Regions from separate parts of the Homo sapiens genome. Here region 2 is linked to region 1. Evidence: fine-mapped expression QTL. Tissue or cell type: whole blood. Region 1 holds a variant in brackets; the other region holds the start of a gene. All regions are shown on one strand. Distances are from middle to middle.

Region 1 (2,836 bases):
AGGGAGGAGGGGAGGAAGGAGAGAGGAAGGGAGGAGGGGAGGAGGGAGGAGAGAGGAGGGAAGCGGGAGGAAGGGAGGAGGGGAGAAGGGAGGAGGGAAGAAGGGAGGAGGGAGGAGGAGAGGAGGGAGGAAGGGAGGAGGGGCCCTCACTCTTTTCCTGGCCAGAGGGAGAGAGATGATGAGAGCCCAAGTCTCAGCAGCAAATTCAGCCCCACACTGGACAGACCAGGTGTTCCCAGCTGAGCCCCCCAGGTGTGGGGGCTCACTCCAGACTGAGCTGAGCCTCCCATCGCAGGGGCTCTGGACCCCAGCTGCCCACAGTTCATCATCTTCTCCACCCTGGCTGTACTCCACAGCCATCAAAGGACCCTGGAAACCCAGTCTCCCCTCCTGGAGATCACAACAGGCCAGGCGTGCTGTGGGCTCTGAGAGCCGTGTCACGCTGCACTCGGGCCCTGCCAGCCAGCAACTATTCCCACCTCTGTCCTCCCCAGGGACCCCATTGAGGTCCCTGGCCCCTTCCCCAGTCCCTGCAAAGAGAGGCCCCTGCGCCTGCTATCCCCGCCTCACTAACACATGCCTCCAGCCTCCAGCCTCCAGCCTCCAGCCTCCAGCCATTTGGAACCTAAAACAGCTTTGCTGGTGCCCTCTGACTACCCAGGGTGGTGTGAGAGCGCTGGTCAGCCCAGAGCCCGGGGACCCCTGGGCGTGAGCCTCACTTCCCTATCCTCTCTGAGGAAACACCCCGAGCCCAGGTGCCCTCCCTGCAAGAGGCAGCAACCGGGCCCCACCCCCCACAGCCCCTGCCCGGCCTCTGGCCTGCTCACTGTCCGCAGGTGACAGGGGTTCCTGGAGGAAAGGTCCTCACCCCCGGGACCATCTTCCACATGCTCTCCTTCGTCCTGGTGAGCTCCACTCCTCCTCCCAGCAGAGCTCCTGGACTGCCCACTTCTCTGCAGCCCAGGCAGGACCATCCAGGTCAGTGCACCTGCCTCCTGCTGCTGACAAAGCCAAGTCCCTGCGCCCCGGTGTTCTGCCCGGCCTGCTGCATGCTGAGGCTCGCAGGCCACGGACTTCTCAGAACAAATCCCCCCTGAGAAGCCAGCTCTGGGCCACGGGGACACACTTCTAGGGGCCTGCCTTCCCGTGCGGGCTCAGCTCTCCTGGGCAGCCTGGGTACAGCATGGGCGCCCGAGGACATACGCAACCCACAGCTGATTCTGCCCGGGGGTGGTTTCCACGGGGAGCCTCGATTTCCAGGTGAAGCACATCATCAGTGCACGTGGCACCAGGGAGAGGAGCTTGCATGGCCCCAGAGTGGGGACACAACCGGCGAGGCTCTCCCCACTTTTAGTGCGGCTGGCAGCCCGGGCAGCCTGGGGCTCCTCTGCTGGCTGTGGGGGGAAGGGGGTTGCTGGAAGCCAGGCCCTTGCCACACTTGGCCCTTCCGGGACTGGAGGGTCCCACGGCCCAGTGTCCAGGGTTCTGCATCTCAAAGGAGAGTCAGGGCCCCCGAGGCCAGTGACAGAGCTTGTGCCGCCCGCACCTGGCGGCAGCTGCTTTGTCTACAAAGGCAGTGTTTAATTTTGCTTTCCACAACCAGACTGCATTCTGGATACAGCTG[A/T]GGAGACAGATAAGGAACCTGTGCGTGGGGGAAATACGCCCCTGCCAGAGGCCCTGTGGGTGCCCGGGAGAGAAGGGGCCCCACGGCACAAGGAGCTGGGGCCACCTTCCCAGGTTGTAAACGGCTGTGAAGGTGAGTCCGTGTGTCCTGCCTCCTTCTAGAAAAGCCTCTGACCTGGCTTCAGGCAGGGACTGACCTGGGGAAGGCGCGGTGCCCCCTGCCCAGGCGCGGCCCCCGCCGGCCCCTGGCACACCCAGCCACCTCCCTTGGTTGCTCAGTAAGAAGCTGAAGGTGGGAGCCTCAAAGAGCTCGGTGCACATACATCAAACGCCACCCAGGGAGACCCGCAGCCTCCAAGGAAACAACGGGAGACCCGCCACGAAGCCGGACGCGCGATGCCTGTGAAGGAACCTCCTGCGATGTTGATGGCAGCAGCTCGTCGAGTTTCCTGGGTGCCCGGGGAGACTGCACTGCTGCCCTTCGGAGCATGAGGCAGACACTCAAAGCCGGGCTCCAGGGGAAAATTCAAACGTTTGAAGGGACCAAACGGCCAACATCACCCGGGACCCCCAGTGTGGGCACATCCGTGGAGGGAGTCGATGGCTCTGAGGGGGTTTGGGGAGCCGGCAGGGGCTCTGCCTAACCCAGGCACCCAAAGCCACGAAGGAGCGGGGAGAGGTGGATGGCAATGGCTGGTCTGATTTTCTCCCTTGTCTTTTTCTGTATTTTCCAAAGCATCTCCTCTGAGTGAGTCTTGCTTTCATGATCAGGGAAAAAAGAAACATACAAGAGCCGCCAACATAAGAGCCGGTGTAGAGTCCGAAGGAAAACGCAGATCTGAGTGCACTTTGAAGTCAGAAAGCCCCCGGGGAGGCTCCTGCTGTGCGGACACACCGTTCCCACCTGTGCCAGCCTCAAGGCACCGAGACTGAGCCGCTCCAGCTCCAGCTCAGTGAGAATGGCGGGGACACATACTCCAGCAGCCCTGAACCCCAAGAGCCACAGCCTCCCGCTGGAGTACTCCAGGGGACAGGAGCACACCGGCCCGGATGGGCCTCAGCAGCCCCCGGCCAAGTAGGGCCATGCTGCCAGCCTCATCCACATGGAGATGCCAGGGAGGCCAGGCCACCAGCAGCCCCAGGTGCACATGCAGTCAGCCCCACAAAACCTGCCTGCCTCTGCTCCCAGCACCACCACCCACACCACAGCACA
Region 2 (2,642 bases), 42 kb before region 1:
CTGAGGGACCCTGGCGGGGGCGTTGTAGAGGACCAAGGGCAGTACTGGCCGGGCCTTCTTGGGGAAGCTACTACGTGATCACGAGCAGAGGGGAATTGAAGGGATGGAAGCCATGGCATGGGGGGCTGGGCTCTCCGGGGCACATGGGAGGTGAAGACGCAGGTATGGCTGCAGGGATTTAGGAGAGGGGTGAGGCAGGACACAGGGGCAGGGGGCGGGCAGAGGCCTGCAACAGGGCAGCCTGGACAGGACCCTGTCTGCCGCTGGAACAGAGAGCTGGCAGGCCAGCCCGGACCGGGGCCCTCCACAGGCCACCACAAGACACACACTCCACCCTCCCAGCCATACCCAGCCAGTCTCCTCTGCAGAGTCTCCTAACGGCAAAGGCCCTCATGTCCGGCACCAGGATGCCAGCCCAGCCGCCTGGGCTGCAAGCACCACTGACCCCCAGAGCACAAGGCACCCCTTCAATGAGAGCATTGGAGCCACCTGAGATCCCCCCTCGCCCCCTTGGGTTCAGCCCCCAGGCCCTGCAGGTGCCTGGGAGACCGAGGTGTGCTGAGCACGCCTCTGAGCGGCTGAGGGGCAGGGCCAGCCGACGCTGCTGGACCCACATGATCCCTAGAGCACCCGGGGGACAGGGGAGGCGAGTGCAGGATGGGATGGAGGCCCAGGCTTCCCCCACCTCCAGGAACAGCCCCCACCCACCAGTCACCTGGCCAGGGCCAGCACTCAGCCCAGGCCACTCGCCTGCCCCTTCTTACCCAGGGGGCCGAGCTGCCACTCTGAAGACAGCACCACACTCCCTCCAACCCAGAGGAGTACCTCCGCCAGCCAGGCCACCGTTCCCTTGGTCCGGCTGTCGGGGGAGGGCCATGGACCAGACATGGCCTGACGACAGCCGGGCCTGCTTCACGGAGGCCACAGAGGCCCACCGGCCTTCGGGCAGCGGAGGTCAGGCAGTGGCAGCGCTGGCGACAGGACCTCCGTGGGGCCTTCTCTCCTCTGCCTCTTCCTCCTCCTCCTCAGGGCCCTCCGAAGCCCCCACAGGGCTGTGCCCAGGCCCGGCTGGCATTGGCCTGACCGTCACCTGCTGTCCTGATGGCCCCCAGGCCAGCCTATCCACCCTCCAGGGCCACCAAGGAATCCCTGACGCAGCCGCCTCCCAAGGCTGGGGGAGCAAAGGACCTCAGCCCCGCCCAGCCCCAGGCCCAATCCCTGTGCTAATCCCAGCTCCAGCCCAGCTGGTGGAGGATTTAGGCCGAGGGAACTCCCAGCTGGGGATGGGAGGGCACTGGGGAGGCAACAGAGTTTCCCAAGGCCCCAGGCCACCAGACCCAGGTCAGGGCTGCGGGACAAGAGCAGGACCAACGGGAGGGCCCTCCTGGGACCCAGAGAACGCAACCGGAAGGCCTGCAGGGTACTGTCCTCCGAGGACCCTGTGTGGGGTGGGCCTCCCCGCTGTGCGCCCACCACAGATGCCGAGGCTGGGCCTGGAGTGGTCCCTGCCCTCACCCCGCATCCCTACTTATGAGGACCTCTGAGTGGATCCCCAAAGTCCAGAGGCAGGTGGCCCAGAGCAGGGGCAGAAGCTCACCTCATCCCCGCAGCGCCCAGCCCCTGTGGCTGGAGAGGGGAGCCGAGCCGGATCCCTTACAGCGACAACTCCCAGCCCAGGCCCAGGATGTGGGTCCCTGAGCCTGGGTTGGGCTCTCCATGTCTCCCTCATGCAGCTGCAGCCCCAGCCTGACCTTTCTCCACGGTCACCGAGCTGTGGCGGAGGAGGTGGCCCCATGCCCAGGGCACGTTTGTCCCCACATTCTGCCCTGCAGGGATGACAGCCATCTGACCTGGACAGGGGCCTCGCCCAAGGAGGACCCACCCCACCGTCTCAGCTCCCACTGAGGAAAGGACTCCAGGTCCCACTGCCACCAGGACCACACAGCCCACCCTGTGTACTGGCCCCGCACTACAGGACAGCACAGGCTCTCCCATCCCCAAGTCCAGGCCGGGACACCAGGGGCAGCTGTGGGAATGGGAGGTGGGCAGACCCCGGCTGAACACCAGCCACCTGTGTCCTGGCCATGCCCATGCTTCGTGACCACACTGGGGAGAACCCCGCCCTTCTTCCCACCCACTGCCCAGGCTCTACTGGCTCCAGCAACAAGGACTGGAAGGTTCCGGGCAGCTGCTCGCCTCCCCCCATACCAGGGGAGGAGTTTGGCCTGCAGAGCCCAGGACAGGGAGGTGCCAGGGCTGGGCATCCTGGCAGAGCCCCGGGGCCAAGGTCAGGCGTGGGAGGTGGCAGTCCCTGAGGAGATGGCCATGCGTCTCCAGCTGACCACTGACAACCAGGGCCACACCCAGCCAGATCAGATGCAGTCAGCACAGAGCCAACCCAGGCCCCCACCAGGGGCCCCGTCACAGGCTCTGCTGCTCTCGGCGGAAGCAGGTCAGCAGGCGTTTCTGGGCTCTGCCGTGGAATTAGATTAGGGAGCCATGAGCTGCAGGGAGAGGAGAGGGGCTGGAGTCCCGGGCGTCCTCAGGAAGACAGGGCCTCGGGGAAGGCCACCGTGTAAGGGGCAGCGCAGGGGCCAGGAGGTGGCCTGAGGGCCTGGAGACAGACCAGACGGCCATAGCCC

What was found. PIP is the estimated chance that this variant, and not a neighbour inherited with it, causes the effect.
Region 2: it holds the start of PLCH2, and the variant in region 1 is fine-mapped to the expression of PLCH2 in whole blood (TOPMed, PIP above 0.99).

What each region holds. Positions count from the first base shown.
Region 1 is chr1:2,433,235-2,436,070 of GRCh38, reverse strand. It overlaps a transcript of PLCH2 not described here. Among named protein-coding and RNA genes, the nearest start is that of PEX10, 22 kb to the right of the region's middle. The variant A/T (reference allele first, on the strand shown) is at 1,625.
Region 2 is chr1:2,474,835-2,477,476 of GRCh38, reverse strand. It overlaps PLCH2 (phospholipase C eta 2), which reads right to left and starts at 1,188. Exons shown (of 22, transcript NM_014638.4): 1 at 765-1,188. The coding sequence starts at 888.